Linked DNA regions of Homo sapiens. The protein of the gene in region 2 purifies or fractionates together with the protein of the main gene of each other region. This does not show direct contact. Each region holds a gene or a part of one and is shown on either strand. Other genes may lie near its edges. The genes, in order: PPME1 and PPP4R3A.

The links.
Region 1: the proteins of PPP4R3A (region 2) and PPME1 purify together in Homo sapiens (affinity purification with mass spectrometry; 2 studies listed by BioGRID and IntAct, with this or other methods). This does not show direct contact.

What each region holds. Positions count from the first base shown.
Region 1 is NC_000011.10:74,171,014-74,184,353, forward strand, and holds the start of PPME1 (protein phosphatase methylesterase 1), read left to right. Parts: upstream 1-275; 5' UTR 276-408; coding exon 409-509; intron 510-13,340. UniProt on the Homo sapiens protein: Demethylates proteins that have been reversibly carboxymethylated. Demethylates PPP2CB (in vitro) and PPP2CA. Binding to PPP2CA displaces the manganese ion and inactivates the enzyme.
Region 2 is NC_000014.9:91,499,718-91,507,310, forward strand, and holds part of PPP4R3A (serine/threonine-protein phosphatase 4 regulatory subunit 3A), read right to left. Parts: intron 1-7,593. UniProt on the Homo sapiens protein: Regulatory subunit of serine/threonine-protein phosphatase 4. May regulate the activity of PPP4C at centrosomal microtubule organizing centers.

The DNA.
Region 1 (13,340 bases), on a different chromosome or scaffold from region 2:
CGCTTTGCTACAATACCTCTCCGGGGTTGGCTGGGGGGCGCCTCCAGCTGCGCAAGCGCATAGGGATGCGCCCTTTGTGGACTCCATTGCGCAGGGTGCATTGCCCTGAAGAGCGCTCCTCCTTCCGGTGAAAGTCGTCGGGTTCCCAGCCGGGAGTCTGCGGAGTTCTCATACTCTGTTACCCAGCTTCCTTTGTATGAGTGCTGTTGCGCACTTCCGGTGGAAGCGCTGAAGCGAGTGGGTGGAGTTTACGGAGCCGGTGGGCGGTAGGCGGTGCTACGGGTAGCTGGGTGCTGTCCAAAGGCGACAGGGCGTCGTTAGGGGAGCGAGTCGTGACCGGTTGGGCCACACTCAACGTGGGACGAAGCTTCGCCTACTGTTTGACTACGTGCGTGCAGCCTCCCCTCGATGTCGGCCCTCGAAAAGAGCATGCACCTCGGCCGCCTTCCCTCTCGCCCACCTCTACCCGGCAGCGGGGGCAGTCAGAGCGGAGCCAAGATGCGAATGGGGTACGTGACCCATACCCCTTCTCCCTATGGGCCAGGCCCCAGCCGTTGGAGAATGGTATCTCTGGGCGTTCATAGAGGCACGGGAAAGGAGTCTACTGATAGGAGAAAATGTTGGCGGCCTGGAGATATTTAGATGGAGTAGAAGGCAGATTGGGGTACTAGGGGAGGCGCCAAGTCAATAGAAATTGGAGGAAAAATAACGTTGTTGAAGGGAGAGGGGAATGAGGCAAAGGTTGGGGAAGCTGAGAGACTAACATAAGGGATCTGAGAATCACTTCCACAATAAAGGAGGCTTAGAAAAGGGAGTAGAACGGTGACAAAGGTGGAGGAGAATCGGCCAGGGAAGGTGGAGGGAAGTGGGGAATGACTGAGAGAAAAGTTGAGGGGAATTGGGCCAACAACTAAGGAAAGGTTTGGGAGGAGTAGATATTATCAGAGTTCTAATATCTGCACTGTGAGAACTAGATACTAGAAAAGCTGAGGGGGGTAGAAAACACTCGAGACAGGGCTGGAGAAGGAAAGAGGAGAACTAGGAAGCAGACGATTCTAGAGAATTCCCAGAGGTGTAAAGACAGATTCAGCGAATGAGAGGTGAGATTAGGTCTCTTAAGGGAGAATGAGAAAGTTTAGGGAGTAGGCCTAAGGTAAGGTGGAGAACATAGCCACGAAGATTGTTAAGGGTAGTAGGAATGTGCTGAGAAGCTGGACAGGATAAGGGAGAGAGAAGAAGGAGAGGACTGAAGAATTTACAGAGTGAGAAGCTGGACAGGATAAGGGAGAGAGAAGAAGGAGAGAACTGAAGAATTTACAGAGTGACCATAGGCTCTAAAGATTGAGAGATGACTATAAATACGGTTTGGTGAATGGAAGTGCTGCAGTTGTAAGGTCTGGGAAGCTTAGAGGAAGATTTGGGCAATCAGTTTTTGCTGGGCTAGTAGATCTGAGGGAAGCGACGTACTGGCCTAAGACTTTGAATTAGTGAAGCATTGGGAGTTCGAGAAATAGTTTGCTGGAAAGGAAGGAGAGCCATGTAGAAGAGATAGGTTTTGGAATTTTAGATCGTTAAATGGCTTGTGCCAGGTTAGGGGATACTTGGGCCGAGGAGAAAGAATGAGGTGAACATGGGAGAAGTAATTGCTGGAAAGTGGAGAGAATTGAATAGGCATTTGGTTTTGAGGGGATATTTGTAGTTTCAAACAGGATTCTGGGAATTAGTGACTGTAAAGAGAAAAGGAGTAGGAAAGATACTTAGGTATGAGGGCTCCAGAGTATATTTGGGATTCTAGAGATGAATTGGTAGATATTCTTTGAAAAAGGACTACAGAAGAGAAACCTTAGGTTCTGAAGAAGTAATATGTGTAAAAACTTATCAAAAAGGAGGCGAGAGTAGGAGATGCAGTACTGTGACAGTAAGTCCTAGGGATGAAAAGAAAGGAGAATCCTATAAAACAGTGGGGTAAAGGAATGGGAAAAATGGGTGGAAAAACCAGGGAAGGAAACTAAGAATTGAGTGGAGACCTGCTATGATACGCAGTAGAAAAATGAGAAAACTTTAGCAGGAGGAGATAGAGAGATAGACGCACAATAGAGGTAGAAGGCTACATAGAAGGTAAAGTGAAGATTGTTTTGGCTTTGGAAGACAGAAAAGTTGGACTATAACATGAATAAAGAGAATTTGGAAACTGACCCATAACATTATTTGGGAAAACTAACCTGGAGTTTAATATTAATGTAACATTAATTGTTGTTAAATATCTTAGTTGCTGCCTTTCTTAAAATAAATTTGATTTTTCAGTATACCAGCACCCTTCTATACAAATACATAAGAAAATCAGATTTTTAATAATTATACATTCCTTAGATAAGCTTAATTAGAGCTCAGCTTCTCATCTTGGAGAAACAAGTTCTCTGAAGATTGAAGAACTGAATGAAGATACTGAGAGAAAAAAAAAGGAAAATCTGCTGATTAGAAGATTGTATAATTGTTAGTAATTTATCGTTTTTATTTTTTATTACTTTTCATTTTATTTTTTTTTAGAGACAGAGTCTCACTCTGTTGCCCAGGCTAGAGTGCAGTGGCACAATCTCGGCTCACTGCAACTTCCACCTCCCGGGCTCAAGTGATTCTTGTGCCTCAGCCTCCCAAGTAGCTGGGATTACAGGCATGCACCACCACGCCCGGCTAATTTTTGTATTTTTAGTAGAGAGGGGATTTCGCCATGTTGGCCAGGCTGGTCTTAAACTCCTGGCCTTAAGTGATCTGCCCCACTTGGCTTCCCAAAGTACTGGGATTATAGGAGTGAGCTACTGTGCCTGGACAACTTACCTTTTTAAAAAGATGCTTTGGTCTTCTTGGTTTAGGTTAACTGCTTATCCTGGAAAAGAAAGTTCTTTAGAAAGGCCTTTCTTTATGATAGTATTGTGAAGAGAAGAGCATATATTGGCGAATATTTGTGTGGTCCTCAAATGGCTTATTTTCCCGTATCTTTCTTTTCTACTTTATTGGTATATAAGCAGGCTTCATCTAAGTCTCATGGTAGTAATAATATAGATTCTCTTTCTCCTTAGAATCATAAAGCTGAGAGAAAGCATAGACATGGTCTCATTTCACCACTTCATGTAGTTGAGGAACCCAATATTCAGAGAGTTCTGTATTCTATAAGGGAATGTATTAATAAATGAGGGAACTGAGACTCAGATATTCCTAAGGTACCCTAGAAGCTTAGCGGTAGGGCCGTTAAGGACTAGGACTTGGGTCTCTTGACTGTGAGACCCATTGTGTATTTTGGAGTCATAATTGTCATCTGGGGATACTTATTTTGAGTTGTGTATCTTACTCATTTGCATATAATCTAGGATTCAGTCTTTTTCTTCAGTCGTAATTTATGAAGTCTCACACCAATTTCAAAGCATTCTTTATGTCTCCTTATGCTTACTTGCTTTTTTCTTAACTTCCATTCTTCCACTCTATCTATGTTACTCACAAGTTAGTCCTGTTCTCTTGATAGTCTCTTGTGTGGCTTACTCTTAACTATTTTTCATGATCTCTTGCCTTCAATTTCACTAAACATTATTTAGGCATGTTTGCATATTCAGGGTGCATATTCTGAGTTGGTGATTTTTCATGAGTTTCCATAATTCAGTTTTTCAGATTAGATTTAGTAATTCCAAAGTATTGTTGGATAATTTAATAATAGCAATTTTTAAAGTAAGTACTGTGTGCCAGACATTGTAATGGTAACTTTATGTTATTTAATGTGTCCACAGACCTGCATGGTGAATATTTTCCTGCATTGTGGGTAAAGACATTCAGACCCAGAGATTAAAAGTAACCCAACTAGTAGGTAGCAGAGCTAGGATTCAATCTAAGTTTAGTCTCTAGAATCCATTCACTTTTCAGTACACTAATATTTTCTCTTGGGTAAGGCCTGAAATCCTGGTGTCACTCTTCCTTTTAATAGATGCCAATGGATGTTGCCAAAAACAGTGGTTTTGAACTTCTTTATTAAAGCTTTTAGAGCTACTCTGACTAAAGTAGATTTGAGATCCCTATTTGCTTTGCACCCCTGGTGTGCTTGAGAGAAGTATCTTTTGAAAGTCACTGCTTTCGTATATACTATTACTATTAGAGGAACTATAAAATATTAAAGCCATTCATTATTCAACGTGTTTTTGGTTTATCAGTAGTTGTACTTTTTGGCCAGGTGTGGTGGCTCATGCCTGTAATCTCAGCACTTTGGGAGGCCGAGGCGGGTGGATCACCTGAGGTCGGGAGTTCAAGACCAGCCTGACCAACATAGAAAAACACCGTCTCTCCTAAAAATACAAAATTAGCTGGCGTGGTGGCACATGCCTGTAATCCCAGCTACTCAGGAGGCTGAGGCAGGAGAATCACTTGAACCTGGGAGGCGGAGGTTGTGGTGAGCCGAGATCGCGCCATTGCACTCCAGCCAGGGCAACAAGAGCGAAACTCCATCTCAAAAAAAAAAAAGTTCTACTTTTCTATTATTATCTCTTAAATTCCTTTTTTTTTCTTTTGCAAGAGATAGAGTCTTGCTGTGTTGCCCAGGCTGAAGTACAGTGGCTTTTCACAGGCATAATCTTGGTGCATTACAACCTCAAACTCGTGGGCTCAAGCAGTCTTCCCACTTCATCCTCTTGAGTAGGTAGGACTGAGGATACATGCTAGCATGCCCAGCTCTGTAGTGATTTAACTGACATGTATATAGTAGTCCCTTTTTATATTCTATGAGGTAAACTAGGGCAGGAGTTAATATTTTCTTTTAATAAATGAGAAAACTGAAATGTTCATTGACTTGCCTAAGATCACAGAATCATTATGTGGCAGGAACAACATTCAAACCCAGGACTTCGTATTTTTAGTCCATTGTTCTTTCTATAGCTTGCATTGAAGGGTTTGATATTTGAAGTGACAAAGATCTAAGTTTGAAGCCCAACTTAGGTATTTACATTGGTCGAGTCATTTAACTTCTCATAGTCTATTTTCTTATCTCTAAAATGAGAATACTTCTGCTTACCTGAGAGTGCTGTGAGAATAAGATAATACATAAAAAGCACTTATAGTTCCTGACACTGACACATAAGCTCTTAAAGAATGATAGCTAGTAGATAATTATACATTGAGAACTGTGAAGAAGGTTCATAGTTTATGTGGAAGCTCTCCTTTCAGTTTCTTATGTTATCAGCTTTTTTGTCCCCACAAGCTGTATGTTTATTCATATCTGATTAGATAGTCTTTCATCCATCTTCTTAAATTTATTATGGATATCAGGCCTCTTAGGAAGGCTTTAATGAGCTATTCACACAGATGGGGAAATAAAGGGCAAAGTGAAGTGATTTGCTCAAGGTCACAAATTGAGTTACTAAAATAATCAAATCCCAGTATTTCTGTTTTTTTTTTTATTTTTTCATTAGATTTTTAAAAAGTTAAATTTATATGCCATAGAATTCACTCTTTTAAATGTACAATTCAGTGATTTTTGGTATATTCACTCAGTTGTACAATTACCACCACTAATTGCAGAACATTTTCATCCTCCCATAAACTCGTTACTCATTAGCATCTTCCCTTCCTCCCAGCATGTATTGCTTCTGGATCTTGAGTCACAGAAAGGCTTTTCCTTTTTTTGGGTTATAAAGGAATCATTTATATTTTTTCCTGGTACCTGTGTAGTGTCCTTTTTTTTTTTTTTTTTTTTTTTGAGACAGAGTCTTGCTCTGTCACCGAGGCCGGATGGAGTGCAGTGGTGTGATCTTGGCCCACTACAACCTCCACTTCCCGGGTTCAGGCGATTCTCCTGCTTCAGCCTCCCAAGTAGCTGGGATTACAGGCATGCACCACCACACCCAGCTAATTTTTGTATTTTTAGTAGAGACGGGGTTTCATTATGTTGGCCAGGCTGCTCTTGAACTCCTGGCCCCAGGTAATCCACCCACCTCAGCCTTCCAAAGTGCTGGGATTACAGGCATGAGCCAATTTTTTTTTAATCCATTTGAAGTTTATCTTGATATGCAAAGTGAGGAAAAGAAGACATTTTATTTTTATCCAAAGGCTATCTAGTTGTTTTCATCATTTATTAAATTTTTTAGTCCTTTACCCATTACGTAAATTTCACTACAATAAAGAAATAGTCCTGGCCAGGCTCAGTGGTCCATGCCTGTAATCCCAGCACTTTGGGAGGCCAAGGCATGTGGACCACTTGAGCTTGGGAGTTGGAGACCAGCCTGGACAACATGGTGAAACCTCTTCTCTACAAAAATCACAAAAATTTAGCTGGGTGTGGTGGTGTGTGCCTGTAGTCCCAGCTACTCTGGAGGATCATTTGAGTCCGGGAAGCAAAGGTTGCAGTGAGCCAAGATAATGCCCCTGCACTCTAGCCTGGGACACAGAGTGAGACTTTGTCTCAAAAAAAAAAAAAAAAGTCTTCTTTCTCACTGATTAAAATGACACCTTTGTCATATGCCAAATTTCTATATAAATCCGGGTCTGTGGAGTTTCTTTTACGTGCCACTACTGTACTTTTAATTAGAGGATTTATTAATATGTTTTGATGGGTGGTAGAGGTTGTTTACCCCTCATTCATTTTGAGGATTTTCGTGGTTCCTCTTGTTTTTTTCTCACAAATAAACTTTCTAATCCCATAGACTAGTGCCAGAAAAAAATCCTGATAGTATTTTTATTGGGATTACATTAAATACAAACATTAATTTAGAATAAACGTTTTTATGATGTTGAATGTTCCTTGAAGAAATATGGTATCTTTCAATTTGTATGAATCCCTTTTGAAGGAAATATATTTCAGATTCCAAGTATTGACCTAAGTTATATTCAATCTAATATTACTTAAATTCAATAGTACTCTTAAATAATTGTGAAACTCAGTAGATTTACTCTTTAAATACAATTAAGTCTACAAAAATCCCCAAACTCACATTAGCAACATTATATTGATGTGAAACAATCTAATTTGCTGTTATCAGTTTACTGTAGTTTAAACTACAAGGACATTTATTATTGATAGGATGTTCCAGGGTTCATTCAGTTGCTAAACAATTTCATTCAGGACCCAGGCTGTTTGCATCCTTTCTTTTGCCATCCTTAGAATGGTGGCTTTTCCTTCTCTTGCTTGTCACCTTATGGTTGCAGGATGGCTGCTGCCACTCTACTTCTATCTTATCTTTACAAATAAAAAGAAGCGGGGGCCAAAGTCCTTTCCTAGCTAAGCTTGTCTTTTAATTTTTTCCCAGAAATGCAAGCTCCCCAACAGATTTTTCCCTTAAGTCTTATTGTCCAGAACTGTTCACATACCCATCCTAAAACCAATCACTGGCAGTAGGGAATGGGATTAACTATGACTGGTTTAGACCAATTTTGATTCATTCCCTTGGACTGGAGGAGAGACAACAAGAGATCTCCACTAGCTGCTCAAACAAAAGTATTACAATTCTGTTAGGGAAGAGAGAGTGGGAAGTGGGCAGGTAATGTCTGGAATAGAGAATAAACAGCATCTGGCCCAAATCCTGAGGTTAACAAGTGGAGAAGCCTAATCTTCTGATTTCAACTTCCCTACTGTTTTCATTGCAGTGTAAGTATAGGAAGTAATAATCCCACCCCCAACTCCCCTGCCCCTTATTGCCAGATTTCAGCCCCTTGACATTCATTTCAGAACTTCTGAGTAAAAGTCCGTTTTTCCATTGTTGCTTATTGCCAGCAAATCTATTTCTTCTTAGTATCTCCAAAATTGGGTAATTTGCTCTTTTGTTTTATTTTAAACCTAATGAGCCTTCCATGTTATGCTACTTGATGTCAGATTTCAGAAAACATCTCTAGTTGTTTGGGAAAGACTGTTTCCTTCAAACTACAAAATAGTTTTTTTTTTTTTAAGAGAAGAAACTTTTAATTAATAGTTCTATTAAGAGGGTGGCCACACTTAGATATTCTTCAAATACAATATTGATTACAAGTTACAGGTATATTCTACCAATATATTTTGAAGATTGAATAAGAGATTATATTGAAAATTCCAATCATTTCAAACCACACCGGAAGACCGAAGTTGTTTACTTATCAGTCCTTTTCCTATATGCTTCTGTGTGTGTTTTTGGCCATAGACTTTTTCCAGGTTTAAGTAGACATCCTCTCTCTGCCACTAACAAGTTGTATGACTCTGGTCAGTTTCTCTTCCTGGGCCTCGTTATCATGGAAAGAAAGAACGCTTTGGCACCTGACGTACTTGTTTAAATCCAAGCTCCCCAGCCTGGGCAACATAGGAAAAACTTGTCTGTACTAAAACAAAACAAAACAACCAGGCATGGTGGTGCGCACCTGTTAGTCCCAGCTACTTGAGAGACTGAGATGGGAGAATCACTTGAGCCTGGGAGTTTGAGGTTGCAGTGTGCTGTGATCGTGCCACTGCACTCCAGCCTGGGAGACAGAATGAGACCCTATCTCTAAAAATAGTAATTATAAAATAAAAAGTCAAATCCAAGCTCCGGTGCTACCAAAAATGGCTCTGGGAAAGTTATTTAGTATTTCTGAGTCACCTTAAAATGAGAATACTTTAATGGTACTGTTCAAAACCATGCTTGGTACGTAATAAACACCTAGTTGTTTCCTTTCATAAAGTAAGATTTGAGTTAGATGATCTCTAACAGCATGATTCATGATGTAGTTTTTAGAATCCTGAAGTCTGCTGCTTAATGGCATGCCTTGGAGTAAGGAACACTTCAGACCTACCACAACCCTCAGCCAGCCATCTGGTTGCTTTCTTTTCATTCTCTTCAAAGTACTGCTAATAAGGACATTTTAAAAACAGTGGTGCCTTGATTTAAATAGCTGGCTGCAATTAAACTTCAGTATTTAGCCTCCACTACCAGACTCCTAGACTTTGACAGAATTTGTGACAACAAGTGATTAAGACTGCTACTGTGCCCATTCATGACTCATCAATAACTCTCTTAACAGACTTAAGCAGCCTAGATGTTGATGTGTTATTCCTATTTAGATTTGAGACATTCATGTAAAAACATACAACTTACATTTCTTGGTTATTGTTCTCTAGGCAAGGAAGGTTTTTCCTCCTTCCCTTTCTCCCCTTTCTCTCCTTCCTCCTGGCTTTCCTTAGGATTTGATCATATAATTTTGTTGGTTTTGGTCATTATCTCCTAGTAGGCATATCACATTGTAGACAAGCAGAACATTCTCTATTCTCCTTAGTCCTCTGAATTGTAATTATTGGTCAACTGTGTATTCCTCAAAACTGTTGAGGTTCATAAGGGTAGGAATTGTGTCTGAATTTTGCTGGTGCTTAGAATGCTGTCTCCTTTAGTGCTAACTGAACGAGAAACCCAAATCCTGGCCTATTTAACCCCGTTCTATAAGAACAACGTTATTTCCCCATCAGTTCCCTTAAGATGGTATAACTAGGGCTATACTGCCTTTCTCCTAAAAGCGGTTATACTTCATAGAATAATAGAATCTCTATTTCAATACCAGCTTTTAGGTAAAATGTATTGTGTTTACAATATGTTACTTTGAGATTTAAAATAATTATATGGTCGAAACTCTTGTAATAGGTCTTGTAATAGGCTTGTAATAGGTCTCATGATATGTACAGATTCAGGCTTGTTACTTTTATTTTATCAAAATTTGACAATTTATGTCTTCCTCTTTGATTCCCCAAACCTGAAAGCAAGTCCACTATTATAAGACAGCAAATGTCAATTAGCAATTATTTTCACACTAGCCTTATTTTATAGTATTCAATTTTTCTGCCCTTGCCCAATTTATCACTTATTCTCTAAGAGCGAAGACTATTTTCCAAGCACCTTCACCAAGTTTAGGGACCAGAGCAAGTGGTCCACCATTAAAGGCTAGTGTTAAAAGCGCTCCAAAGTCATGTCCTAAGCAGTGGTAATTTCCTAAGTGTTTCTTGCACTTAACAATTGCCAAGTTTATTTTGTTGGCAATGCCTTCCATTTTCTTCACTTTTTTTTTTTTTTTTTTTTTTTTTGAGACGGAGTCTCGCTTTGTCGCCCAGGTCGGACTGCGGACTGCAGTGGCGCAATCTCGGCTCACTGCAAGCTCCGCTTCCCGGGTTCACGCCATTCTCCTGCCTCAGCCTCCCGAGTAGCTGGGACTACAGGCGCCTGCCACCGCGCCCGGCTAATTTTTTTTTTGTATTTTTAGTAGAGACGGGGTTTCACCTTGTTAGCCAGGATGGTCTCGATCTCCTGACCTCATGATCCACCCGCCTCGGCCTCCCAAAGTGCTGGGATTACAGGCGTGAGCCACCGCGCCCGGCCCACTTTTTCAACTCCTATCCATCTTTAAAACTCATGAAGCACTTTCAGACTACTTTAGTTCATTCATTTGCTCTCTCTTCTCTGAGCACCTATAACAATTTTGGCATCTCCACTCATCAATTGTTTGCATTGGTATTGTACTTTTTCACTGTTACTGTGTCAGACTTATCGAAGATAATTTTATGCAGATTTTTGTGTGTTTCCTCAATAACATTTAGAACTCCTGTAGTGCAAGGACCTTTGTTTCTTTGTGCTTTCTACTGTAACACAGTTAAATGTTTTTGTAAAATTTAATTTAATGGACACATAGCACAAATTCATTTAAAATAAAGTTCTGAGGCTTTTTCTGATCAGTCCAGCTTGCACCGATTTTTCTATTTTCTGTCCTTTGGTGGCACCTGTCATTTTACCAGGAATCAGCAAACATTTTCTGTTAAAAGCCAGATAGTATTTTAGGCTTTGTGGGCCATGTTAGTCTCTGTTGCAGCTACTCAGCTCTGCTGTTTTAGAGTGAAAGTAGCCACAGACAATATGTAACTGAATGTGTCTGTGTTCTAACAACACTTTATGGACACTGAAATTTGAATTCCACATAATTTCCACATGTCATTAGTCTCTCTTCTCCCCCTGCCCTCCACCTTTTAAAAATGTAAAGATCATTCTCTGATCCTGGGCCATGCAAAAATAGGTGGTGGGCTGGATTTCCCGTAGGCTGTAGTTTGCCAACCCAGTTAGTTCTATACTTCTACTGTCTTGTAGTAGAAGGAAGGTAGGTTTTAAAATCAACAAACTAGGATTCTCTTCCTGGCTTTACTACTTACCGCTTAACTGGTGCAAACTTGACTTTATTTTTTTTTAAATGTAGATAATAATGCTAGCCTCATAGAATTTTTGAGGAGAAAATGAGATGATTTATGTGTAGAAATATTATTTAAATTGGAAAACTGTCTAATGGAAACTTACTGTATTTCCTCAATTCTAAGATACATTTCTTTTTTACATTTAAATTGATAATGTCTTTTTTTTTTTGAGACAGAGTTCTCACTCTGTCACCCAGGCTGGAGTGCAGTGGCATGATCTCGGTTCACTGCAACCTCTGCCTCACAGGTCCAAGCAACCCTTCTGCCTCAGCCACCCGAGTAGCTGGGTTTACAGGTGTGTGCCACCACGCCTGGCTAATTTTTGTATTTTTAGTAGAGACAGGGTTTCACCATGTTGGTCAGGCTGGTCTCAAACTCCTGACCTCAAGAGATCTGCCCACCTTGGCCTCCTAAAGCATTGGGAGATAGTGTCTTAACAATGCTGTTGGTCAGGTAACAATTCTAACATGGTTCTCATTGCCTGAACATAAGTGAACACCAAAACCAGAATCAAAATTTACAAAACGTATACATGTTGAGAACTTCTTAGAGGTAAAACTGGACTGCTCTTTTAACCACTAGGAACTGAATGCTTGTGAGGAGGCGTGGGTGTTCAATCGGGTGGGTTGAGCAACATTCCTAAAGTGAGAGTCAAAAGTAAGGCTGAGGCCAGGCACCATGGTTCATGCCTGTAATCCCAACACTTTGGGAGGCTGAGGTGGGAGGATTGCTTGAGCTCAGGAGTTCAAGACCAACCTGGGCAACATAGCTAGACCTTGTCTCTACCAAAAAAAAAAAAAAAAGTACGGGCTGGTGCAGTGGCTCACGCTTGTAATCCCAGCACTTTTGGAGTTCGAGGTGGGAGGATTGCTTGAGCCCAGGAATTTGAGACCAGCCTGGGCAACATAGTGAGACCACATCGCTACAAAAAGTTAAAAAATTAGCCAGGCATGGTAGCATGTCCCTATAGTCCCAGCCACTGGAGAGGCTGAGGTGGGAGGATGAATTGAGCCCAGGAGGTTGAGATTGCAGTGAGCCATGATCGTGACACTGTACTCCAGCCTGGATGACAGAGGGAGACCCTGTCTCAAAACAAAACAACAACAAAAAAAGTAAGATAGCTCTAAATAATTGTAAAGCTGGCATATGAACTGGTGTTTAGTTATATGAAACATTCCATCACCAATGTTCTTGTGAGGCACAGAAAACTATATTGGTCCAAGTGATTCAAAAGAGAGTGGGACTCCAACTATGAAGAAATGGTCAGGAATACCTTAAGTATTTTATTCTGCTTTCATTTATATATATTATATATATGTCTCCATAAGTAATATATAATGGATCTATATAAGTGTAAAAGAGCTATTTCTTCTATAGAAAAATAGAATGAATTCTTTTTTATATAAAAAATGTAAAATGAATTCTAAGTGATAAAGTATTGTGTCATACTTGATAGTTCTTTTTCTTAGTTTTTCATCTTACAAATTCTTTTTCTTAGCTTTTCATCTTACAAATTGATGGTGCCTTGTACATACTGTATTTCATCTATTCTAGCAACAAGATTGTGATCTGCTTGTTTAGTTTTCTTAATTGTAAACTCCTTTTGTATGTTATTTACTTGTCCTAAGGCAGTTAGCATTTAGGAGCTCAATAAACATTTGTTGAGTGAATGAATGACACTCAGATGCAATGGAAACATCACATTTTCCCAATAGCAATAGTTTAGAATTGTCCATCCTGAATTTAATAGAGAAGTAAATGGGAGGGAGGAGCCATAGACTTAGAGTGAAATTTAAAAAATATGATTATTGAAAGCTTGCAAAAATGAACTCGTGCCCTATTTATATTCTTTTGTGATTCCATATTTATATCTCTCTGTCTTTATTCTTTTAAGAAATATATCTTAGGTGGCTGTGAGGATTAAATTTGTATAATGCTTATAAAGTGCCTAGTACATATACATGTCTAGCTTGTTTCATTTAATCCTTTTCATTCCTTTAATTAAACAGCTTTTCCTTAAGCATAAGAACCATTGTTCATTATATATAAAAACCACTTTTAATTGAGTTTTTCTCTGTTAATTAACTGAACTATATTATTAGCTGGGTTTCATAAAAAATGGCATTTTAGCATATTATGGATAAGT
Region 2 (7,593 bases):
AGCTGAGGCAGGAGAATCGCTTGAACCCGGGAGGCAGAGGTTGCAGTGAGCCGAGATCGCACCACTGCACTCCAACCTGGGTGACAGAGCGAGACTCCACCTCAAAAAAAAAAAAAAAAAAAAAGTTCCCTCCCTGCTTCATATCTTGGTTCTTCCTATAAAATGAAATGTGAGGCCCTTTCTTGTAGGGTGCTACCAACCCCCACCAAAACACAACACAACACTACACCTCTGGGGATTGGAGATAAAGATGGCTGGTAGTACAGAGTGAGGTATCCTTCTAACAAAGTCTACATTACAGAGAACTCAGCAAATATTTTTAAAAGGAAAGGTTTTGCATAAAAATTATAGATTTCTTGCCAGGTGCAAGTTAATACAACAAGATTTATAGTTAAGAAAAAAATAATACCTACCTCACAGGGTTGCCATTAGCATTAACTGAAATTTTTTATTCAAGTGCCTGTCCCAATATGTAGTACATAACCAGCACTCAATACTTTTTTTTGAGACGGATTTCACTCTTGTCAGGCTGGAGTGCGGTGGCACGATCTCGGCTCACTGCAACCTCCACCTCCCGGGTTCAAGTGATTCTCCTGACTCAGCCTCCAGAGTGGCTGGGACTACAGGCGCACACCACCACGCCCAGCTAATTTTTGTATTTTTAATAGAGACGGGGTTTCACCATATTGGCCAAGATGTTCTAGATCTCCTGACCTCATGATCTGCCTGCCTTGGCTTCCCAAAGTGCTTGGGATTACAAGCTGAGCCACCGCGCCTGGCCTCAATACTTGTTTTTTTAGGGCATCATCATACAGTCATTTCACTGGTAACACTGTACTGTTGTATAGCAGGAAAACGAGTATTAATAATGACCCATAAACACCAAGCATTAATAATGACCCATAAACACATTACGAATAAGAGGTTAACCAATATATTCATTTACTGTTTAGGAAAAACATTCCAGTACACATTTAGTCAACATTCCATAAAAAAATTACTGACTTTTAAAACTTATGGTAGGCCAGGCATGGTGGCTCATTACTGTAATCCCAGCACTTTGGAAAGCTGAGGTGGGTGGATCACTGGAGGCCAAGAATTGGAGACCAGCTCAAGACCAGCCCGGGCAACATGGCAAACCCTGTCTCTACAAAAAATGCAAAAATTAGCTGGACATGGTGGTATGTGCCTGTAGTACCAGCTACTTGGGAAGCTGAGGCAGGACGACTGCTTGAACCCAGAATGTTGATGCTGCAATGAGCTATGATCACACCACTGCGCTCCAGCCTGGGTGAAAGACCAAGACCCTGTCTCTAAAATTTAAAAACAAAAAAACCCAAAAAACACCTTCTGGTACACAGCTTTTATTCATCTGGAAAATTCACTTGTTTAGAAGATTTAACTTCCTCTCACTGAAGAAACGAGATAGTATAGAGAATTCCTGTAATTTTTATGGTTTTATCTTCACTATCAACCAACTAGACTCAGGTAGCAGGGAAGTAATATGGGAGTGTTTGGGTTTGGGTTTAAGTAACTTTGGTCTTCACCACAGCCCTGATTTGGATAAATACTGAAGGATTTCAGAAAGAAGAGCTACACCCTTGTCACTCCTAAGCAAGCAGCTCAACCCATCAGCTTCTAGAGTATATTGTCCTTATCAATATTCAAGGCTTAAGGCAGGGACTTATGTACTATGCTTCATTAGTAGAGAGAATGCACCATCAAAAATGAGTTAATGCCAGCCTGGGCAACATAAGGTGACCCCATCTCTACAAAAATAACAGAAAAAACTAGCCAGGTATGGTGGTGTACACCTGTGGTCCCAGCTACTTGGGACACTGAGGTGAGAGGATTACCTGAGTCTGGTGGTCAAGGCTGCAGTAAGCCCTGATCACTGCACTCCAGCCTGGACAAAAGAGTGAGATCCCGCCTCAAAAAAAGAAAAGTCAATGGGGCCCAAAATCTCATGTAGGTGGGAGACTAAAGTGTGCTTTTTTTTTTTTTTGAGACGGAATCTCGCTCTGTCACCCAGGCTGAAGTGCAGTGGCGCGATCTTGGCTCACTGCAAGCTCCGCCTCCCAGGTTCACGCCATTCTCCTGCCTCAGCCTCCTGAGTAGCTAGGACTACATGCTCCCGCCACCAAGCCCGGCTAATTTTTTTTTTTTTTTTTTTTTTTGGTATTTTTAGTAGAGATGGGGTTTCACCATGTTAGCCAGGATGGTCTCGATCTCTTGACCTCGTGATCTGCCCATCTCGGCCTCCCAAAGTGCTGGGACTACAGGCGTGAGCCACCGCACCCGGCCAAGACTAAAGTATGCTTTAAACCCGTAACAGGTATGTGCTCCAAGTCCTTCTTTCCTGACTTTTCGGAAAAAAATTTAAATGCCTCATTACATAGTGGCATTTAAAAACTAAAATGGGCCAGGTGTGGTAGCTCACAGCTATAATCCTGGCTACTCAGGAGGGTGAGGTAGGAGCATTGCTTGAGGCAGGAAATTCAAGACTAGTCTGGGCAACACAGTAAGATCCCACCTCCCCTGAAAAAATTTAAAAATAAATCAGCTGGGCCTGGTGGCATGTGTCTACAGTCCCAGCTACTTGGGAGGCTAAGGTAGGAGGATTACTTGAGCCTAAGAGTTTGAGGCTGCAGTGAGCTATGATCGTGGCACTGCACTCCAGCCTGGGTGACAGCAAGACCTTGTCTCTAAATAAACAAACTTTTCAAAGTGAAATACTTCCCCTTGTACCGACACTGAGCTCTTCTTGATAAATATACAGAATGCTTGGCATATACAAGATTCTATACTACTGACTGATCTGTTCATTTCTCTCACAGCTCTTACCCCCAAAAGCTTTTCCACCCTAAGTGTTCTGACCTCCTTTTCTAATCACAGTAGGGATAGAGGCAGACCCACCTACAATGAACATGGAGTTCTATCAAGAGGCAGAAACAGCACAGAATCCCAGTTTTACCATTCGCTAGCAGTGCTGCCTTGAACAAAAACATTTCTCCATGTCTCATTTTCTTCATGCCTCAAGTAACAGTGAGAATTTAACCTGTTTAACTCTAAGATATGAGTCAGAGAACAGATAAAACTATTTTGAAATGTAAAGAATACTTTATAAAATTCAAGGTAAAAACTCAATGTAAGCACACTATTCTGGATGCCTTGGCAAGTACTTCGTAATAAGGAGCACAAATATGATTATGGCCAAAGACACTCTTCAGTGTGTGGAGGAATTCCAACTCCCTTACATTTCTTTCTTTTTTAAATTTTTTGTTTTTAGAAATAGGGTCTCATTCTGTCACCCAGGCTGGAGTGCAGTAGCATGACCAAAGTTCATGGCAGCCTCAAACTCCTGGGCTCAAGCAATTCTCTGGCTTCAGCCTCCTGAGTAGCTAAGACTACAAGTATGTGCCACATGCCCAGCTAATTTTCTAAACTTTTTGTGGAGACAGGGTCTTGCTATGTTGCCCAGGCAGGTATCGAACTTCTGGCCTTGAGCAATCCTCCCCCACCTTGGCTTCCCAAAGTGCTAGGATTACAGATGTGGGCCACTGTGCCCGAGCTACATTTTTTTTTTTTCTGAGACAGGGTCTTGCTTCATCAGCCAGGCTGGAGTAGTGGCTCAGTCACAGCTCACTGTAGCCTCGACCTCTGGGCTCAAGCAATCCTCCTGCCTCAGCCCCAAGCAGCCGGGACTACAGGTGTTTAACACCACACATGGCTAATTTAGAAATTTTTATTTTGTAGAGATGGGGGGTCTCACTTTGTTCCCCAGCCTTGCATTTATCAACTGTAAAACTGGCAGGTGGATATGGTAAAAATCATAATGGTGAAAAGTAGTACAAAGGGGCAGAGGGAGAGAGAGTATCAGGAAGAATAGCTAATGGATGCTGGGCTTAATACCTAGGTGATGGGTTGATCTGTGCAGCAAACCACCATGGCACACATTTACCTATGTAACAAACCTGCACACGTACCCGGGAATTTAAAATAAAAGTTGAAGAAAAAACAAAAGAAAGAAAAGTAGTATAATGATTTCACCACAAAGGGAGAGCATAAGCAAGGTATGAAATTATTATCCTTACTTCAAGTTAACAGACACAGCATACACTGAAAGAATTAAAAATAAAAACAAAATAATCTGAAATGGAAGATGGAACTTTGCAGGTATACGGCTATCATAAAAACTGAGAGAAATAAGGTAATCTATCTTCCTTAAAGAAAAGCATGGGCCAGGTGCGGTGTAATCCCAGCACTTTAGGCGGCCAAGTGGGAAAGATCACTTCACATCTGGAGATCGAGACCATTCTGGGCAATACAGTGAGAACCTTTGAAAAAATTCAAAAATTGGACCAGGCATGGTGGCTCATGCCTGAGCCCAGGAGTTCGAGACCAGCCTGGGCGACAAAGTAAGACCCACCCCCTTCCATCTCTTAAAAAAAAGAAAAAAAAAATTTTTTTTTAATTACCCAGGCACAGTGGTGTGCACCTGTAATCCCAGCTAGGTGGGAAGATCAACTGAGCCCAGAAGTTTGAGGTTACAGTGAGCTATGATCCTGCCACTGCACTACAGCATGGGCAACAGAGCTCTTAAAAATTAAAAAAAAAAAAAAAAGAAAAGAAAAGAAAAGAAAAAGAGCAGGGTGCGGTGGCTCACCTGAGGTCAGGAGTTCGAGATCGGCCTGGCCAACATGGTGAAACCTCGTCTCTACTAAAAACACAGAAATTCACCAGGCGTGGTGGCAGGCACCTGTAATGTCAGCTACTCGTAAGGCTGAGGCGGGAGAATCGCTTGAACCCGGGAAGCGGAGGTTGCAGTGAGCCGAGATTGTGCCATTGCACTCCGGCCTAAGTGACAAGAGCGAAACACTGACTCAAAAAAAAAAAAAGAAAACAAAAAACAAAAGGGACGTGTTCTTACAACCTATTTTGCCAGCAGAAACCTACTGGATAAAGATGCAATCCAAGAAATGGGCCCAGAAGCTTAGTGGGACATCCCTTTTCCTCTAAAGCAAGGTAGGTTGAGTGCCAAGTTACTCGGTTTTGGAAGGGAAGGCATACAGTACTTACCATGACAGATCTGCTCTGTAACATGAAGGCCACAAGTACTTCCATTTAGAAATTCTCTTCTGTGATTTTTAGACGAGCATATAAGCTCCCCTAACAAGAACTGAGCCTACAGTTGAGATAGCATTATTATAGCTTCCCCGTCCACAAATATAGACCCAATAATGAGAGAATTTTAAAACTACCCAGCCTTTCTATACCCATGCTAACACTATATACATTATAAAATTCCCAAACGCTTTGTCATTACTAAGTAGTGTGTACAGTTTAAAATGAATTGCCTGAATTTGAATCCCAACTCATACCATCTTAATAGATGAATGACTTTGGACATGTTGTCATCCTTTCTGAGAGAACTTATTAAAAAAAAGAAACGCGGCCGGGTGTGGTGGCTCACGCCTGTAATCCCAGCACTTTGGGAGGCTGAGGAGGGCGGATCACCTGATGTCAGCAGTTCAAGACCAGCCTGGCCAACATGGTGAAACCGTGTCCCTACTAAAAACACAAAAATTAGCCATGCATGATGGCAGACGCCTGTAATCCCAGGCTTGAGGCTTGAAGCATGAGAATCCCTTGAACCTGGAAGGTGGAGGTTGCAGTGAGCCAAGATGATGCTACTGCACTCCAGCCAGGATGACAGAGATTCTGCCTAAAAAAAAAAAAAAAACACACACCATTTATTTCACAGGTATGCAAAAGCCCCTATCACACTATCTCTAGCACTGACCACCAAATTAGCTGATAGCCTATTTCTAAGGTGGATGATTAACACATCACAAAAACTTAATTTTACAGACAATAAATACTTGAAAAGTGTTAAGAATCAAATATTTATTTTGTTCTAAAGAAATAATCTGAAAATCAAAAGTTTTTTTGGGGAAAAGCTACAAGTAATTTAGAAAAGAAAAACTTCAACACAATAATGACTAGGTCTAGCCCAAGTATGGAAAAGCGCAATAATTTTAAGTTTCTATTGGACAAATGACTCAATTTATGGAAAATCAGAAATACTTTCCATTTTGCTCATGACAACAAAAAGAAAATATCAATTATCCTATGATGGAGAATGGAGCAAGCACACAATAATGGCTGACCCCAACTGGCAGTCAACACAAAAACATCCATGTAAAGCTTGTAGATAAACTATAATTGAAATTTTTTTTTTTTTTGAGACGGAGTCTCGCTTTGTCACCCAGACTGGAGTGCAGTGGTGCTGATCTTGGCTCACTGCAAGCTCCGCCTCCTGTGTTCACACCATTCTCCTGCCTCAGCCTCCTGAGCAGCTGGGACTACAGGCGCCCGCCACCACACCTGGCTACATTTTTGTATGTTTTTAGTAGAGACAGGGTTTCACCATATTAGCCAGGATGGTCTCGATCTCCTGACCTTGTGATCTGCCCGCCTTGGCCTCCCTAAGTGATGGGATTACAGGCATGAGCCATTGTGCCCGGCCGAAAATATCTTTAGGCTAAAAGTAATTTTCATTTTCTTTGAAATAAACCTTCAGGCTAATAAAGCAGCAAATGCAAGTAGACAGTAACATGGGAGTTTAATATGGTTAATAGCACTAAATCAGACACTGTTGTAAGAATTACGTAAGTCAATATAAGTAAACTGCTAAAAGAGTTTGGCACATAGTAGGTAGTCAGTAAATTTTGACTTATTATCCCTATTTAGATGTGACAAGAAATGTTAATCATCGACTAAAGATTACTGACAGTATTTCACAAGTATCCTGGAATTTTTTCTAAGTCCATGGTGTGTGTGTATGTGTGTTTGTGTGTGACAGGGTCTCCCTCTGTCACCCAGTGCAGTGGCATGATCACAGCTCACTGCAGCCTCCACCTCCTAGGCTCAAGTGACCCTCCCACCTCAGCCTCCAGAGCAGATAGGACTACAGGCCCGTGCCACCGCACCAGCTAATGTTTGTATGTTTTGTAGAGATGGGGTTTCGCCATGTTGCCCAGGCTGGTCTTGAACTCCCGAGCCCACACAATCCGTCGGCCTGGGCATCCCAAAATGCTGGGATTATAGGCGTGAGCCACCGCACCCAGCCTAAGTCCATTCTTTGCATTCAGTTTTCCTTACAGCCTAAATTTACAAGGGCACATCAGTAATTTAGTTAAGCTCTCCCTGCTAGATAAAAATTAAAGTCATTTTGTTTTAGTCATTTAACCTCCAACCTGCAAAATGGAGGAAGAGAGATTTGTGGCTATTTCCAAAATGGTAAAAATATAAATGGAGGTTCGGCGCAGTGGCTCACGCCTGTAATCCTAGCACTTTGGGAGGCCGAGGCGGGTGGATCACCTGAGGTACAGAGTTCGAGACCAGACTGGCCAAAATGTTGAAACCCCGTCTCTACTAAAAATACAAAAAAATTAGCCAGGCATAGTGGCACATGCCCATAGTCCCAGCTACTAAGGAGGCTGAGGTAGGAGAATTGCTTGAACTCAGGAGATGGAGGTTGCAGTGAGCCACGATGGTGCCATTGCACTCCAGCCTGGGAGACAAGAGCAA